Linked DNA regions of Homo sapiens: region 2 is linked to region 1. The links come from fine-mapping of genetic effects on gene expression. Tissue or cell type: skeletal muscle. Region 1 holds a variant in brackets; the other region holds the start of a gene. All regions are shown on one strand. Distances are from middle to middle. Region 1 overlaps FARP1 (FERM, ARH/RhoGEF and pleckstrin domain protein 1). Region 2 holds the start of FARP1 (FERM, ARH/RhoGEF and pleckstrin domain protein 1).

The links. PIP is the estimated chance that this variant, and not a neighbour inherited with it, causes the effect.
Region 2: FARP1 starts here. The variant in region 1 is fine-mapped to the expression of FARP1 in skeletal muscle (GTEx, PIP 0.96).

What each region holds. Positions count from the first base shown.
Region 1 is chr13:98,178,265-98,187,906 of GRCh38, forward strand. All of the region lies in intron 1 of FARP1 (FERM, ARH/RhoGEF and pleckstrin domain protein 1), which reads left to right. Among named protein-coding and RNA genes, the nearest start is that of RNF113B, 5.8 kb to the left of the region's middle. The variant T/C (reference allele first, on the strand shown) is at 4,516.
Region 2 is chr13:98,138,177-98,147,818 of GRCh38, forward strand. FARP1 (FERM, ARH/RhoGEF and pleckstrin domain protein 1) reads left to right here and starts at 4,918. Exons shown (of 27, transcript NM_005766.4): 1 at 4,918-5,316. LOC105370328 (a long non-coding RNA gene) reads right to left here and starts at 5,734. Exons shown (of 3, transcript XR_931670.4): 1 at 5,663-5,734. RefSeq lists silencers at 4,369-4,418, 4,659-4,968.

The DNA.
Region 1 (9,642 bases):
GGCTCACTGCAACCTCTGCCTCCCGGGTTCAAGCAATTCTCCTGCCTCAGCCTCCTGAGTAGCTGGGATTACAGGTGTGTGCCACCACACCCAGCTAACTTCTGTGTTTTTAGTAGCGACAGGGTTTCACCATGTTGGCCAGGCTGGTGTGGAACTCCTGACCTCAGGTGATCCACCCACCTTGGCCTCCTAAAATGTTGGTATTACAGGCGTGAGCCACTGCACCCCGCCTTCAAATATTTTTAACCCTTTTTTTTCTTGAGTTTATCTTCAAGTTGTGAAATAATTCATTTATATAATGTAAATGGATTCTAGTTCTTATTTAGCCAGTGCATGTCATAAAGTGTTACATGCAATTTCTTTTTCTAATTTAGGTTCTATCTCTTTACTTACTAGAATGGAAGATGAGATTCAGCTCACTTGTAGTGCCCCCAAAACACTGGCTGCTGTGGGATGAGGGAGAAGTTGTGTGGGTCTCTCTTCCTAGACACCAAGGCATCCTCAGCTGTTGGAAATGTGATGAATAAGCTTACAGTGTAAAGAACAATTCATCATTTGTCAGTTTTCTCTTAGGATAGTAATTCTAGATTTTTCTTCAACTGTTATCATCCCATCTTTCATGTTGGAAGCTTTTCTAAAATACTTGGTTATCTCCAGCTGTTTATACTTCAGAGTGAGGTGCCTAAAAGCTGGCTGGAATCCATCGGTATTGTTGGGCTTGTACACTGGACTGTCCTTTGTGTGATTCAGTTGGAACCCATCTTTTTTCTTGGAGACCCCCAGATGTTGGTGTCCATATTAGTCCGTTTTCACGCTGCTGATAAAGACACACCTGAGACTGGGTAATTTACAAAAGAAAAAGGCTTAATGGACTTACATTTCCATGTGGCTAGGGAGGTCTCACAATCCATGGTAGAAGGTGAAAGGCATGTCTCGCATGGCAGCAGACGAGAACAGAATGAGAACCAAGTGAAAGGGGTTTGCCCTTATAAAACCATCAGATCTCATGGGATTTATTCACTACCACAAGAACAGTATGGGGGAAACTGCCCCCATGATTCAGTTATCTCTGGTAACTGGGTCTCTCCCACAACACAAGAGAATTTTGGGAGCTACCATTCAAGATTTGGGTGGGGACATAGCCAAACCATATCAGTGTCCATAGGTCTTTTCTGCTGGGTTCTCGAGTTTCTACAGAGAAGACTTATCTCACATTCCGCTGTGGGGTGTGATCTTTGCTGCCAGAATTCTGTGATAAGAGCTGTAGAAGTGGGCTGGGAAGGGAAGGCCTTATAATTTGGGGTATAAACTTTGACTTGGCCTGGCATGGTGGCTCACACCTATAATCCCAGCACTTTGGGAGGCTGAGGCAGGTGGATCACGAGGTCAGGAGATCGAGACCATCCTGGTCTACCCCATCTCTACTAAAAATAGAAAAAAAAATTAGCTGGGCGTGGTGGCGGGTGCCTGTAGCCCCAGCTACTCGGAAGGCTGAGGCAGGAGAATGGCGTGAACCCGGGAGGCAGAGCTTACAGTGAGCCGAGATCAAGCCACTGCACTCCAGCCTGGGTGACTGAGCAAGACTCCATCTCAAAAAAACAAAACAAAACAAAACAAAAAACTTTTGACTTAATTCCTCATTTTTAGTAAAGCATCTGATTCCCACCTTTGGTTGTTCCCGGGCCCTTTGAGCTTAGGCCCTCCTAGATTCAGCCTCCACAGAAGAGATATCTCCTGCTTCTGCCGGGCTAGGGAAAGGGTAGCCAGGCTAGGGAAAGGCTAGGGAAAGGCTGCATGGGGTGGGAGATTGTGTTAGTTTTGCATTGCTATAAAGGAATGCCTGAGGCTAGGTAATTTATAAAGAAGAGAGGATTAATTGACTTGTAATTCTGTAGGCTGTACAAGCAGCATGGCGTTGGTATCTGCTTCTGGTGATGGCCCCAGTAAACTTCCAGTTGATCACAGTGGAAGGCAAAGGGGGAGCAGGCTGTGTCACATGGCAAGAGTGGGAGTGAGAGTGGGGAGGGGCCACGTACTTCTAAACAACCAGAACAAGATCCCTGGGTGAGCACCCAGGAAATGGTGCTAAACCACTCATGAGGCATCCACCCCCATGATCCAGTCACCTCCCACCAGGCCCTACCTCCAACACTAACCACATTTCAACATGAGATTTGGAGGGGACAGACATCCAAACCGTATCAGAAAATTTTCAGATTCTCAGCCAGTCTTCTTGTGTGGAGCCATATCTGTTTCCAGTGATACTTGATTCTTGCAGTTCCTGGGATTTGTCTTGAAATTGGCATGCTGCTGCTTGTCATCTCCCTCCACAGCCTTCAGTTTCAGCCTTCTTCCAAGTTAGTTGAGATTTTTCAGCTCACTTTATTTCTTCTAAAATATTATTGATGTTCTTGTTTTCTCTGGTGTCTCTTTCTTCTGGCTCCTTTTGTGGGAATCTGCCTTTGTAAAGTAATGTTTATCATTTTAGTGGGATTTTGGGAGGGAATAGGGGTGAATGCCTGAGTGCAGTCTGCTGTGTTGAATGAGGAATGGTAGTGGGCTGTCTTCACTTGATAAGTATTTTCCCCTGTTCCTTAGTATTTCTCCATAATGTGCATTTTAATGCCTGCATAATGATCAATTGTATGAGTCTATGATGCCTTATTGTCCTAATACTCTGTTGTTAGATTATGTGTTTCCTCATTTATATACCTTTCCCTGTGTTTACATTTGTTTTCTTAGGGTTGATTCCTACAAACAGAATTACAGAGTTTAAGCATTTTTAAGTCTTTTTTTTTTTAAGACAGAATTTTGCTCTTGTTGCTTTCTGAAAGAGTTGTATTGTATGTACATCCACCAGACATGCATGAGTATGGCCGTTTCATTGCAGATAGCACTTCTCCCTGCTGGTTTAGGTCCACACATGCCTACTAAGTGAAGGAAAAAATTGGGATGAACCAAATGAACTTCAGTAATTCTGTCAGCTCACATGTTAACGTAGCTTGGCTGTCTGAGGTTACATCCTGGCGCTGTGACCGACAGCAAATGACCTAACTGCCCTGGATTTCAGTTTTATCCCCTGCAAAGTGGGGTATAAGAGGAAGAATAATAAGTGAATAGACTTAAGTTTAGATTTTTGCCTGGCTGGCAGCGATGGAGAAGAGCAAAACCAATAAAGTCAGTTTCTTAGGTAGTAATGAAAAGATTGTTCTTTATTATTAAAAAGTGACTTGTTTGGGAAGAAGTGATACATTCTCATTATAAAAAAAATACAAAAAAGTAAAAAGAAGAAATGAAAAACCTCACCCTAAATCTTACCATTTAGAAATAATATTATTTATTTATTTATTTATTTATTTATTTATTTATTTATTTATTTGAGAGAGAGAGAGAGAGAGTCTCACTGTTGCCCAGGGGTGTGTGGCGCAATCACAGTTCAGTGTAACCTCAAACTCCTAGGCTCAAGCGATCCTCCTGCCTTGGCCTCCCAAAGTGCTGGGATTATAGACATGAGCCACTGTGCCTGGCCAATGATGTTGGTAACATTTTTTGAGCCCTGTCTAGAACTTGCCATGGTCATGGGGTCTTATCACACATGGTATTTAATACTTAAAGATGTAAAATAAAATAGACTTGAATTAAAGCAAAGGAAAAGAAACTAAAGCAAGATAGAAATGCTGACTTCATTGCAAGAGAGATTAGCGCTATCTTTTAGAAACTAAATTTATGACAAGATGATAAATAATAAATACTAAGAGATTAGAATAATTTCTTATAAACTATGAGTTTGTGAGACTCTCTCCTTTGAAAGCTAAAAAAAAAATAGAACTGACCTATGCTCCCCCTCTTTCCCAAGCTCCAAAATTTTATCAGTTAATTATGAATTTTACAGTGTGAAGGATTGTAACATTTCTATTCTAATAATGCCACAATTCCCATAGCTCTTTGACTTAGTCCCCTTTTAGGATGGATTCAGAACTTGTTAGTCTTTTTACTGTTTTTTTTTACCTTGCTTGAGTTTTAAATTTTGACTCATTGGTTGGTTCATTGTTTTATTTATTTAATCGATTTTATTTTTTGAGACAGGATCTTGCCCTGTCGCCCAGGCTGGAGTGCAGTGGTGCCATCATGGCTCACTGCTGCCTCACCCTCCTGGACTCAAGTGATCCTCCTATCTCAGCCTCCTGAGTAGCTGGGACTTACAGGCACACGCCCCCACACCTGGCTGATTTTTGTATTTTTTGTAGAGACTGAGTCTCGCCATATTGCCCAGGCTGGTCTCAAACTCCCGGGCTTTAGTGATCTACCTGCCTTGGCCTTCCAAAGTGCTGGGATTACAGGGGTAAACCCAGTGTGGCCGCATCCAGCCACATTATTTTATTTAGAGAAGCCCTGGTAGGTACTGTGTTCCTTGAGGTCTTAACACTTAAGGATAGCTGTTCCTTGCTTTTATATTTGAAGGACAATTTGGCCGAGTACCAAGGTCTTGGGCCACACGTTCTTGCCCTCAGAATT[T/C]CTTAGACATTGCTCCCATTCTTTTTTAGCACTGGATATTTCTGGAAGAGAAAGCTGAGGCTGGGTTAATGTTTCTTTCTTTTGCACATGACTAGCTTTTTCCATTGGATGTGCCCATGAGGTTCTCTGATTCTTTTTGAAGTTTAGAGTTTTACCAGCATTGCTTGGGCATTGGCTGTTTTATGTCACTTTCCTGGTATGTCCTATACCATAATATCTGTTGATTCAAGTCTGTCTTTATATCAGTAAAATTTTAAGATCCTTTAATATTTTTGCATATATTTTGAATGGTGCTCACTTTTTGGGAACCATAGTTGTTAGGTTTTATCTTCTTTGCCTTCTAAATCTAGCATCTATTCTTATTATCATTTGTGTATCTTTGTCCCTCTTGTTGTTCCTTTTTAGTAATTTTGAGTGATTTCCTTGTTTGTTCTCTGCCTCTGTTTACAGAAGCTTACACTATGTTTTACTGTAGTTGTGTGGCTTCCATTCTGGATATTTTTTTTTCTAGTCCATTTATTTCTTCAACTCTATCAGTCCATTTAAAATCTCTTAGATTGATGACTGTCAGTTCTTTGGAACTTCATATCTAGTCTCTGAGCTCCCCATTTTTAGAAGGACCATTTTATCTTTAATATTTTTGAGACAATGGAGGACTATTTTTTCTGAGCTCTTAGTCTGTTACCTTCGTTTTTCAGGCCCAGATTCCTGGGCATGGGACCTCTGCATCCACTTAAGGGTCCACGCTTGGACGAATGCTCCCGTCATTGTCTTGAAATTGTTAATAATTTCTGAACAGCGGGCACTGCATTTTTGTTATGCAGCAGCTTCTGTTGATTATTTTTACAAACGCACCTTATTAGCTGCCTTTGCCTGTGTTCTTATTCAGTGGTCGCTCATCTTTGAATGAGGCCGAGCTGTTTGCCGCAAAAACTGGTGTGGGGTATGCTGAGGACTGGAAGGCAGGGGTGGGGAGTGTTGTGAAACCTGCTCATACTCGCTGCCTCCACTGTCCTCCAAACAATTGTTATTTCTTTTACCTTGAGAATGATCCTCCTTCGGTTTTTGGCTTTTAGGAGGCTTGTGTGTCTCTCTCACAGCCAGTCCCCTTAGCGCCCTGGCTCTCTGAGGCTTGACATATGGTGGGCATGGCGGTTGTTCCCCCAGGCCCTTTCTTCACCCTCACTTTCCTTGTTAATCCAGGCCAGGTCATAGGTATTAAAAATGACATCCACATGGTTTCTCCTTCAGTTCCACCTTCCCAGTTAGATTTTAACTTTTAAAATACTTGAGAAGGGAGAGCAGTGTCAGACTCAAAAAGCCAGCAAGCATTGTTTTTTGTTTGTTTTTTTTTGAGATGGAGTTTTCACTCTTGTTGCCCAGGCCGGAGAGTGGTGGTGAGATCTCGGCTCACTGCAACCTCTGCCTTCTGGGTTCAAGCGATTCTCCTGCCTCAGCCTCCCAAGAAGCTGGGATTGTAGGCGCCTGCCACCCCACCCGGCTAATTTTTGTATTTTTAGTAGAGATGGGGTTTCACCGTGTTGGCCAGGCTGCTTTCGAACTCGTGACTTCAGGTGATCCACCTGCCTCCCAAAGTGCTGGGATTACAGGCATGAGCCACCACGCCCGGCTGCCTTTTAATGTGTCATTTTAATGTGTCATTTTAAAGTTCTGTGCTAATAAGGATGTAGGAGGTTATTTGATTTTTGGAAAATTGTTCATACTATATTAACATGTAAAGGTGCTTTATGAAACAGTATGTGGAGTGTGATTCACCTGTTGTTGCTTCTTAAGGAAGTACGACTCTACATTAAAAAATATTTGAAGGGAAAAAAATACCAAAATGCGATTGCCTGGATTCCTAATGTCCATCCTGCTTCCGCCTTTGGTGATGGTGTATAGCAGTGGCCAACTCCACAGCCTTTACATTTTCTCAGTGATCCTATGCTCTAAGAATTTGTGAGGGACTTGTTTTTAAAAAGATTGTTTCTAGTACCGTGTCTACTCTCTTTTGTGGATTAAAATAAATTCATTCTGATGTTTTTGGCAAATACTTCAAGTGTATTTTAAAATACATAATTTTATTGACAAGATACTTTGAACAGGGAAGAACCAGTTTCACAACCAGCTCTCTTGAAAAACAAAAACAAAACTCTAATTCATAGAGTTTGCCAGTTTCCGTGGTGTAAATATTTCCACCATGGCCAGTTGCAGGCTACCAACATGACATCATTGCACACAGAGTTAGGAAAAAGTGTGTGGTAGCACATTCCTATGTAGTATTGTTACCATCCAGATGCAGCAGGCAAAATAACCTCACAATCACAGATAGATAAAAGTAAAATGTAAAATAATTGGGAAGTGATGATTTTTGAGTATTCATTACTTCTGTAAAATTTATGCTTAATAAATATTGATATAATTTATTTTAATCCATATCTTTATATAATAACTGGCTGGTAAAAATTCCTGAAAATTTAACAGCAGGTCCCCATGAGTTGATACAAAAGCAGTATACCGCTGGAAAGAGCCCTTGAATTTTTAGAAAGGGCTTAACAGGGCAAGTCAAGAAAGTGAAGCATGCAGGCGTTGGGATTGGTAAGATAAAGCTCTCTATGGTTGGTTCAGGTGTCGTTTTGTCCTAGATCTTTATGTTGGGGGGGCTTCCTTTTCTGTTTAAGGTTCCTCGTGATCAGAACACCCATAGAAAACTTGGGGAGATAAGCAAGTGCTCTGCTCTTTAGTATGTAATTTTCTTGGCATTCGAAATGGGATGCTACCTTTCTTGATACCATTCCTGGGAAGCAGCATAGGTTCCTTTAGAAACCTTTTAACACATACCAGGTGATTTTGATTCTGATAATTAGTTTTTTTTTTTTTTGGCTGTGGTGGTAAAATATGCATAAAATTTGATGGGTTTGTTTGTTTGTTTTTTTGAGATGGAGTCTCTCTCTGTCGCCCAGGCTGGAATGCAGTGGCACGATCTCAGCTCACTGCAACCTCCGCCTCCTGGGTTCAAGCAGTTTTCCTGCCTCAGCCTCCCAAGTAGCTGGGATTATAGGTGCGTGCCACCATGCCCGGCTAATTTTTGTAATTTTAGTAGAGACAGGGTTTTTCCATGTTGACTAGGCTGGTCTCGAACTCCTGACCTCAGGTGATCCGCCTGCCTCGGCCTCCCAAAGTGCTGAGATTATAGGCGTGAGCCACCGCGTCCGGCCACATTTACTGTTTTGATCATTTTCAAGCATGCAGCACAGTGGTATTCAGTGCACTCACATTATTGTGCCACCATCACCATCATCTATCTGCAGAACGTTTTCTTTTTCTTTTCTTTTTTTTTGAAACGGAGTTTCGCTCTTGTTGCCCAGGCTGGCTGGAGTGCAATGGCACGATCTTGGCTCACCGCAACCTCTGCCTCCCTGGTTCAAGCGATTCTCCTGCCTCAGCCTCCTGAGTAGCTGGGATTACAGGCATGAGCCACCACGCCTGGCTAACTTTTTGTATTTTTAGTAGAGATGGGGTTTCTCCATGTTGATCAGGCTGATCTTGAACTCCCAACTTCAGGTGATCCACCCACCTCGACCTCCCAAAGTGCTGGGATTACAGATGTGAGCCACCGCGCCTGGCGCTCCAGAACATTTTCCATCTTTCTTCTCTCTCTCCCCTGCCCCTGGTAACTCTTCTACTTTCTGTCTGTCTGAATTTCCCTGTTCTGGATATCTCATGTAAGGAGCATCATACAGTAGTCATCCTTTTGTGACTGGCTAATTTCACTTAGCATAATCTCTTCGTGCTTCATGTTGTAGCATGCGTCAGAATTTCCTTCTTTTTAAAGGCTGCGTAATAATCCATTGTATGTATATCCCATGTTTTGTTTATCCATCTATTTGTTGCTTCTACGTTTTGGCTGTTGTGAATAAAGATGATATGGGCCGGGCGTGGTGGCTCACACCTGTAATCCCAGCACTTTGGGAGGTCGAGGTGGGTGGATCAGTTGAGGTCAGGAGTTCAAGAGTAGCCTGGCCAACGTGGTGAAACTCCATCTCTACTAAAAATACAAAAATTAGCTGGGCGTGGTGGCATGTGCCTGTAATCCCAGCTACTCAGGAGGCTGAGGCGTAAGAATTGCTTGAACCCAGGAGTTAGAGGTTGCAGTGAGCCAAGATCGCGCCACTGCACTCTAGCCTGGGAGATGGAGCGAGATTCTGTCTCAAAAAAAAAAAAAAAAAAAAAAAAAAAGCCATTAACGTGCACATACAGATATATGTGTTCAAATCCCTCCTTCCATTTCTTTTGAGTTTATACCCAGAAGTGGAATCACTGTATCGTATGGCAATTCTATATTTAATTTTTTGAGGAATTGCCATTCCATTTTCTACAGCTCATTCATTATTTTTTGACCTGGAAACTAATGTATCTTTCCAAAATGATTGCACTGACTTATGTCCCTTCCCTTGCAGGTAGAATGTCTTTCTGTGAGCCTCCTCTTTGGTGATGGTGTTCTTTCAACATATCTCATATTTGAATGTTTACACTGTAATGTGATAGCCCAATTAAGAGTGGAGATGCTGTCACATAAGGCACCGTATGATAAGTGTCAGAAGAGAAACACAAGATGCTTTGAGCTCCCAAATAGAGGGGAATGGAAAAAGTTTCATGGCATTTGAGATAATCTTTGATAAAGGAGCAGAATGTTGGCAGGTGGAGATGTGGGGGAGGAGGATCCAGGCAGTGGTAAGGAAGGGGGCTCTGTGTCCTGGGGAGAAATAGAGAAAGTCTTGGAAAGTAAGTTCATGTCACCTTACAGGGCCTTGAATGTCAGGCGAAATAACTTATTCAACTTCGTAGGTGATGAGAGCTGTGGAAGGCTTTGAGCAGGAGAGCAACATGGTTATAGCTGAGTGGAAATCATTTGAGTCCAGAAGTTGCTGGATTACCATATGGAGCTGGAGACTATAGCTGCAGAAATCGTGTGGCTGTTGAAATAATCTAGTGGAGAGGGCTGTTGGGGACATGTACAGTTAGTTATCTTATTTTCATTTTCCTCCTGTTGATGTAATTTCTGTGACCAGAGTCTTGTTCTATTTTAATCTGCAAAGCATGCTGTTCAGTATGACATGTAATAAA
Region 2 (9,642 bases), 40 kb before region 1:
TACAATTTTGCAATATCTACCAAATTTTAATATGCAACTATCTTTTGAACCAAAGGCATCCCACACAGATAGTCCCCGGAATCCTATCCTCTACCTCCCCCACTCTCTCCTTAAGCTGTTCTCCATCTGGCTTCTGTCACCACCAGTGCTGCCCCTTCCCCTCCAAGGTCTTGATTCTTTGCAGAAGAATAAGGTCTTACCTCCAGATCCCAACTAATACCTCATAAGTTCTCCAACCTCAGATGTCTACTTCATGTCAGTTGCTTTCTCTGTAGCTCAGTTTCTGCTGGTTCCATTAAGGGCTGCTGAAACTGAGCTCAAAATCCCAAGATTTCCCACCAGCTACACAAGGAGATTCATATTCTTCCTGTTGACACGACTTTGAAACTGCTCATCCTAATATTCTTCCTCCTACCACATTATGCTGTGTTATCTATTGCTGCAAAACAGGTTATTCCAAAATGTGGCTTAGAAGAACACTTATCATCTCATACTTCCTATGGGTTAAGACTCTAGAAATTGCTTAGTTGGGTCCTCTGGCTTTGGGTTCCTCATGACACTGACATCACTTCAAGTCTCAGCTGGAAAGGACTTGTGTATCACATGGTTGTTGGCAGAATTCAGTGCCTCCAGGGCTGTTGGAGTAAGGCTTCCCTCTGTTCCTTGCCACTGTGGGTCCTCCATAGGACATCTTACAACATGGCAGCTGGCTTCATCAAAGTGAGCAAATGAGAGGGCAAGACCGTATCAGTAAGAAGTTATGGGCCTGGCGCGGTGGCTCACGCCTGTAATCCCAGCACTTTGGGAGGCTGAGGCGGGTGGATCACGAGGTCAGGAGTTCAAGACCAGCCTGGCCAAGATGGTGAAACCCCGTCTCTACTAAAAATACAAAAATTAGCCGGGTGTGGTGGCACGCGCCTGTAATCCCAGCTACTCAGGAGGCTGAGGCAGAGAATTGCTTAAATCCAGGAGGCAGAGGTTGCAGTGAGCCGAGATTGCACCACTGCACTCCAGCCTGGACGACAGAGTGAGACTCCGTCTAAAAAAAAAAAAAGTTACAGTGCTCTGTGACCTAATCACAGAAGTGACACTGCCTTCCTTTTCTGTATTCTATCCATTAGCAGCGAGTCACTAGGTCACACTCAAGGCAGGGGGATTACACAGAATGAGCCCACCACAAATGCTACAAGCAGATCTCTTTCCGCCTTGGGTTTTAATACAGGCTGCCTCAGTTACTGTCAGTGCATACTGTCACGTCCAGAGAGCATCATCACCCTAAACCCAGGTTCTCCGAAAGGTGATGTGTTGAAGGGGAGGGAACTATGGAATAAAAAGTTGTGTTTCACTGTGACGTGTGATCTCTTAATATGAAAGATTTGCTTGCCCCCACACACTTTTGTATATGAGCAGAAAATTCCTGAAAGACTGTAAAAACTGTTGGGAAAATTATTTCTAAGAAGCGAGATTAGGGATGCAGGAAGGGTTCCTTCTAGGTTTCACTTCATACTCTTCTATACTGCTTAATTTTATCTTGACATGTACACACGTTTTACAGTAAAACAGTTAAAATTAATAAGAGGAATTGTTAAGCACAGGGTGATTCCTTAATCCAGAAAGATTTCTAAATAACCCATGCCACAGCTTGGGATAAAAGGGGGATCTAGGGGGATTATACATTTTTATATTCTGAAAGTTAAGCATAAATGACACACAATGACAAGGAAACGCCTAAGTTTTTCAGAAGTTGATTTTCCAGGTTCAGGATTTTCGAGGCCAGGTACCCCTGGCTTTTCAGGGAGAGGAATTTAAAAAGTGCTTTCTGGCCAGGCACGATGGCCTTATGCCTGTAATCCCAGAACTTTGGAAGGCCAAGGCAGGGGGATCACTTGAGCCTAGGAGTTCGAGGCTGCAGTGAGCTATGTTTGTGCCACTGCACTCCAGCCTGGGCAACAGAGCGAGACTCCTTTTTTTTTCTTTCTTGAGACGGAGTCTCGCTCTGTCGCCCGGGTTGGAATGCAGTGGTGTGGTCTCGGCTCACTGCACGCTCTGCCTCCCGGGTTCACGCCATTCTCCTGCCTCAGCCTCCCAAGTAGATAGGACTACAGGCGCCGGCCACCATGCCTGGCTAATTTTTTGTATTTTTAGTAGAGACGGGGTTTCACCGTGTTAGCCAGGATGGTCTTGATCTCCTGACCTCGTGATCTGCCTGCCTTGGCCTCCCAAAGTGCTGGGATTACAGGCTTGAGCCACAGCGCCCAGCCAAGACCCTCTCTTAAAAGAAACAGTACTTTCTATCAGGTTAGGTACCAACCGCGGAATGTTGGTGAGAGCTGGGAGGAAACGTAGGAAGTTCTCTAGTGTGACCCCACCGCTTTACAGCCTCTCTAACTAGATTCCCAGAACTGCCCCTTCTCCCCTCTCTTTTCCCCCATTAACTCTCTCCCCATGGGCTCCTGCCCTCAGCCTGCAAACCTCAGAACGGCTCCTTTAAAAGTCACCTTCACAAATGTTGATAATGTTGAGATAAGGCAACATGGGATATTATGTATTATCATATTGATTAATATGATCAATATATTATGTGTTATGATCATAAATAGTTTTAAGATCACAACTAAATCTAATTCTAGACATACAAAGACTATGAAAGAAATGCTGTAACATGTAGAAAATGTCGGTCTTGCAAAGAGAGTGACTGGGAAAATGTCACTTTTCTAATTTTCTGCGCTTTCTATGATTTTTTGCTTTTATTATTTTTATGATTTTTTTTTTGAGATGGAGTCTCACTTTGTTGCCCAGGCTGGAGTGCAATGGCACGATCTCGGCTCACTGCAACCTCTGCCTCCCGGGTTCAAGCAATTCTCATGCCTCAGCCTCCCGAGTAGCTGGGATTGCAGGCGCGCACCACCACGCCCAGCTAATTTTTGTATTTTCAGTAGAGACGAGGTTTCCCCATGCTGGCCAGGCTGGTTTACAAGTTCCTGACCTCAGGTGATCCACCTGCCTCAGCCTCCCAAAGTATTGGGATTACAGGAGTGAGCCACCGCGCCCGGCCTAATTTTTTCCTTTTAGTTGGGAGGTATGACATAGCACTTTGCTACTACGTGTAGTCCTTGGACCAGCAAGTAACACCTGAGAGCTTGTTAGAAACAGTCTCAGACTTACTGAATCAGAATCTGCATTCCAACAAGATTCCCTGGTGATTCAGGTATACACTAGAGTTTAAAAAGCCGCCTACAGCAACTGTTCTCAAACCTGGCTACACACTGGAATCACCTGCGGAACTTTACTGATGCCTGGGTTAGAATCTTTATATATTTGGCTGGGGTGCAACCAGGGTGTTGTTTTTTAATCGCAGATGATTCCATGAGTTTGAGACCCACTGTCCTAACACTGTGATCCTCCAAGTGTGATCCCAGGACCAGAGCAACATCACTATCTGGGAATTTGTTAGAAATGCAAACTCTCAGGCCCCACCCCAAACCTACTGAATCGGCAGCTCTGGGGATGGAGCCTGACAGTCCTTTATCCCTGCAGGCGATTCAGATGCTTGCTAAGGTTTCATTAGGTAGGTCGGGGATGCGGCCCAAGAATGTTCATTTCTTGACGTTTCCAGGGGCTGCTGGTGGTGGTCGTGGTCTGAGAACCACACTTAGAGAATCACGAGCAGAAAAAAATCTGATCTGTGACACACAGCTGGTTGGGCTGACAGAGCAAAGCCTCAAACCCACCATTTCTTCTCTTCAACCACAGACCACCAAATCTGCAAGTATTACATCTCTGCTCCTCCCCAGGAGCTGCCCACAAGCACCCCCTACTTCCAAGACCCCTGTTCTTGTCTCAACCCGCCCTTCTATCAGGGTCCCTACACTCCACTTCTGCCCAGCTCCTGTCCAGCTGTGAGTTCACTTGAGGCCTCTCCCGTGAAATCTGCCCTCTCGGTCTGAGGTCAGGGAACTCCTGTAAGACGCAAAAGGCCCACGGTTCTGAGCCAGTGGCCTCCGAAGGCCGGAATCCGCTAGCCCCGGGTCTGGCAGAACGTCACTTGCTGCGCCCTAGGCCTCTTCCCGCCACGCTTAGAGAGAGGGACTGGAGGCTCAGAAGGGGGAAGAGAAGGTAACGCGGCAGCTGCTGGGTGGGGACGGTGACTGTGCCCCTAGATCGCTGCCTCCTGGGTCCTGAATCTTGCTCCCCGCTCCGTAGAGTTCCCGAAACCCCGAAGGCTCTCAAGCACCGCAAGCCACTCCTAACCTCCCCCACGCCATTCCCCAAGGGCACTGTCCCCCGAGGCTGGGCGGGCGGGAACTGTCATGGGATTCGCTCGGGCGGAGGGCGCTGGGCCAGGACGTGGGCGGGCGCGGGGTGGCCGCCGCTCCCCCAAGCTTAAGTCCCGCGCAGCCCGGGGTGGTGCCGGAAGCCCGTGCCTGTGGCTCCGGGGGAGGGGAGGGCTCGGTGGGTCCCTGAAGACTGTCCTCCCCGCGCGACGTCGCAGGCGAAGCAGCCCCAGGCAGGACCTCAAAAAGCGACCTGCAGAGTCCGAGCCCCTGACCGCCCGCCTGCCGCTCCCGGCTTCGCCGTGCACACGTCTCCCGCTCTCCCCGGTTCGTTTTTCGCCACAGCTGCTGGATTCGCGTCTCGCCAGTGGCGCTCCCCGCGCTGCATTAGGTAGCGCCGCGCGGAGCCCGGCCCTGGCCGGAAGCCCAAGAGAGGCGCAGATCCCCGGCGGCGCGCTGGGCTCGGGAGGCCCCTGGGCGCACCTGCCCGGGCGGAGCGGAGCGGGGCGGGGCGGGCGCAGGGCGCGGGCCCGGACGCTGGAGGGGGCTGTGGCTCTCCCGCGTCCCCGCTGCTCGGGCTGCGCGGCGCCCGCCTCCCCCCGCCGAGGGGCCGGCCCAGACCCGGGGAGGGGCGGTGGCCACTGCACTTCCCGCTCGCCGGCCTCAGAGGCGGCGGGTCCGGCGCGGGCGCAGCGGTGCGGGCGCTCGGCTGGGGCGCGGGGCGGGGACGCGGCCGCTGCCCGCTTTGCGCCGCTCCTCCCTGCGCGAGTAGCGCTGGCCCCGGCGTCGAGGCGGCCATGGCGACCCGGAGCCCGCTCCCCACCCACCCCGCCTGCTCCGCCCTCCCCTCCGCCCCGCGCCACCTTTGATGGCTCGGACCTCAGCCGGCCACCGCCAGCCCTGCTCGCGCGCCCGCGCCGCCGCCGCCCGCGGGTATTAATAGCCGGCGCCGCCGCGCCCTCGGCCGCCGGGGGCTTGGGAGCCGCCGATCCCGGAGCCCGAGCCGGGAGAGGGAGCCGCCGCAGCCGCCGGCGCTGTGGAGGTAGGAGGCGCGCGGTGAACAATGACCGCGGCGGGAGGGCGGGGGCCGGCGGGGTCCGGGCCGCGGGCGGCAACTTGTGCGAGTCCAGGCTCCCGCAGCGCACGGCCGCGGCTGCGGGCGAAGGTGGGCGCGTGGTCCCCGAGGTCCTGCCCTGCGCAGTCGGGCGGCGGGTCGGGCCCGGGCAGCCCCGGCCACCATCGCAGGAGCTCGGGGGCCTCGGGGCTCCGGGCTGCCCCCTGCGCCCCTCTCCCCTCACCTCCGCCGACGTCGGGCTGCGGGGCTCCGCGCCGGTCCCCGCTCGCCTCCCCCGACCCCGGCGCCCTTCCCCCGTTTCCTTCCGTCCTACCCGCCCGCTGACAGCGCTGGACGCCGCTTCCGGACCTCGGGCCGCAATCTCGGCCCCTGAGGCCGGTTGCGGGCCGGGGAGGTGGCCGCTGGCGCGGATGCCGCCGGGTGCCCGCCGCTCGCCCACGCGCGGCGCGAGGGTTCCCGGCGGGTGACAAAGAGGAACACACCCTCTGCCCAAGTTAGATTTGTGTCTCTCTTTACTGTCTGCCTTTATGCAGGGCAAAGTTTTTTTTATTTTTTATTTTTTAAAGCAAAGGACAGATTGCTTTGCGGCGAGTATTTCCAAACAACTTCTGATTGTGGTTTTACGATTCAAGTTCCGGAAACTTTAGCTGTGTGATCCGGCTGGACCCCGGAGACTCTGTGTGTGTGTGTGTGTGTGTGTGTTTTATTTGAGGGGGGGAAATACGAATTCCCTGTAATGAGTCTGGATCTCGTTTGTGGCAGCTGGAGGCCAGCGGCTGTTGGGGATCGAGTAGGGTTCCCCAGAAAGGAGGGAGCTGAGGCTCACAAAGAAGCGAGGCCCTGGTATCTGATCAGTTCGTGGAGACGTGGGAGAGCCTGCTTGTCATCTGGAACAGTTTAGCAGCCTCGGCCTCCCTGTCTCTCCCAGCCCTGGGGAGTACCGGTGGCCTCTGGCCGTTTCATTATATTGTTGTTAAGGCTCTTCTCCTTGTCAGTTTACCAGGTTTGACCGCCCAGCCCTGGTCTCTGCGTGGAAACCCCCGGGGGCCCCTCTCCTTCCAGTAGGCAACATCTTCAGAGCCAAACCCTGGCCTAGCACTGGCTTCTGTTTAATGTGCTTTGCACGTGGTGACTTGCGGAGCCCATTTCAGAACATCCTCCAGCATTGTCTTGCTTTTCTTATTCAGTCTGAACAAGGAGAGGAGAAAGAAACATCTTTCTGGTCCTGAAAGCTTTAGGGAGAGTTGCCTTAAAAATTGGCTTCGTTGTTCCGGAGACTTTAGGAGGGCCCTGCTTCATCCTATCTTTGGCTTTCTCCCTCCTTCCACAGTGTTCTCGTAGGGGGTTTATTCTCAGTCTTTCGGATGGGTTGGTCTCCAGGATGTGACAGTTTCTGACAGTGTGCTTCATAAGTGGGTACAGCTAGCACATGGCTCACTTTATATTCCTGCAGCATCGTTCTGCAGCAAGGCATCAATATTGGAGTTACTCCAAGCACAACGAAGCGTTTGTGTTTTTAGAATGTCTGGCTAATAGATCTGCTTCTGGGTAAAATAAATAGAAGCATTATTGGGCAATGGCTGCTTTACTGAGGGAATTGTTGGTGGAGACAGTGAGTAGATGCCTTCCTAGCCCAGCGCCTCCCAGAATCTCTTACTTGTTTCTTTTATGTGAATGGGAAACTGGAAACCCTCGGTGTGGAGGTGGCTGTGCCTCCTAGGGGCAGATTCTATGGTGCACCACCCCGCCCCCGTTACTTGGGGTGTGGTGTTTCATTGAGAAGTTCTGTCACTGTGGGAATCCTTTTGAAGCGTGGTTTCTAATGCCCCCTTTCACATTGATATTCTCTTCCTTTAATTGATACAGGGATGGATTTATTCCTTGCTTCATAATAGAATGTTAACTTTACTCTGTAGCCAGACTTATCAAAGAAGATCTTAAAATAATTATCCTGGACAAGTTTCTTACTGGGTTATTGCATTCACCTCAGAATTATCCAGAGTTTACAAGGAACCTGGAGGAACGTTTTTGTTTCACTTTTCGTTAAAGAAACTGTCCAAGGGGGCTGGGCATGGTGGCTCACACCTGTAATCCCAGCACTTTGGGAGACCGAGGCGGATCACTTGAGATCAGGATTTCCCAGCCTGGCTAATATGGTGAAACCCTGTCTCTACTAAAAATACAAAAATTAGCCAGGGGTGGTAGCAGGTGCCTGTAATCCCAGCTGCTCAGAGGCTAAGCCAGGAGAATCGCCTGAACCCAGGAGGCGGAGGTTGTAGTGAGTTGAGATTGGGCCACTGCACTCCAGCCTGGGCAACAGAGTGAGACTCTGTCTCAAAAAAAAAAAAAAAAAAGAGAAAAAAGGAACTGCCCAAGGAAATTGTTTTGTTTTGTTTTTTGGTTAAAGATACAAATAAGATAGCATTGAAAGGGTTAGTTTTTTTTAAACAGTGAAGCTTATACTCATTTAATTTATTGAACACCTAAGAGCTTAATTCATTTGGAAAATTGTATATATTTATGAGGAGGATGCTTGTGATAAACATCAGAAAAAAACAACTCTTTTCATCCTGGACGGGATTAGAGAATACTAGAGAAAGGATAAAAGGCTGGTTTCTGCAGGCAGAATATGCTTAGGAAAAATGGCATTGTGATTTTCCCAGAGGATAAGAGAAATTCTGTGGATTTGTAAGTACTGTACTTGCCTGATTTTTTTTTTTGAGATGGAGTTTTGCTCTTGTTTCCCAGGCTGGAGTGCAATGGCGCAATCTCGGCTCACTGAAACCTCTGCCTCCCAGGTTCAAGCGATTCTCCTGCCTCAGCCTCCCCAGTAGCTGGGATTACAGGCATTTGCCGCCATGCCCAACTAATTTTCTGTTTTTAGTAGAGACGGGGTTTCTCCATGTTGGTCAGGCTGGTCTTGAACTCCTGACCTCAGGTGATTTGCCCGCTTCGGCCTCTCAAAGTGCTGGGATTACAGGCGTGAGTCACAGAGCCTGGCCTTGCCTGATGTTTTGATAGCATGGTGGACTGGACATTTTAAAGAAGCCCTTTGTAACTGGCCTTGCTTATTGCAGATAACTGCTTAGTGTTTTTGAGAAATGCACTTTCCTCACCAGCTGAAGGTGCTACAGATAAGAGGGGCAGGTATAGTCCTGTAATGCAGGTGCTAAAGTCTTTCTACTTTGGAAGGACAGGCATTCCCTGTATTGGTTACCGTTTGCCTGGGAAGGGAGGCTGTGGGGTTTTAGGCTCTCGTGGCAGTCTCTCTCCTGTTGTTTGGTGCTTTTGATTGAAAGGAGCCTCTCCAAGCCTGGCTATTGAATGGGAAGCAGCGGATCAACTTCTTTTCTTGTCTTTTAGTGTCAGAGTTTATTCTGTGGTGGTACTGGGTCACAGTCCTTTCTCTCTGTTTCACCCATGGCAACTTAGGTAGGCTGTTACCTCCTTAACCACTTCCACATGGCCAGGAAGATCAGAGCCAAACGGTTTTCATTCAAATTACTTGAAATACTGATTTCTCCAGTCCTGTTCTGCCAAATGCAGCCTTTGTTTTCAATCAAGAAGCCCCCAGAAAACGTGTATTTAAAACTGGCAAAACTTTTTATAGGATGCCCTTGCCCTGGTTTGAATTAGTTAAAAATGTTTGGCCAAGTGGATACTTTGAGCAAAAGTGGATAATGGATACATTACTAAAATATCATGCTCGAAGCTTTTGATACTAATCCGGCGAGACTGAAACTGAGGCATGCTCAGTGCTGCCTGCAAACTGTTAACTCAGATTTTAAGTTTTCTTAGTTTAATGTGGGATGGAAATTATGAACTTCAAGACTTGCAATTAATGTGGGAATTCATCATTTACACTGAATGAATTTCATATGTAAAACTGTCATATTTGTTCACACATTAAAAAAAAGAAGAGCCTCAGGCCACACTAGACTGCCTTTAACTCTCAATTATGATAATAACCTCTGACCACAAGAGTAACTTCACTTTATGTGCAGACTTTTGACGAAATGCTTTGCATAAATTTATTATCAATTAGAAGACTTAAAAATCCAGTATTATGATGACTTTCAGTTTTTGTTCTTGTTCATTCAGGATCTAGTATAGTATCTGAATATAGCAAACCCTTGGTAAATTATTGTGTTCTGTTTTCTTTTTGAAAAAAACTCGAGGCTGGAGTGCAGTGGTGATCATGGCTCATTGCAGCCTTGACCTCTTGGGCTCAAGCAATCCTTTCATCTCAGTCTCCCGAGTAGCTGTGACTACAGACACATGCCATCACGCCCA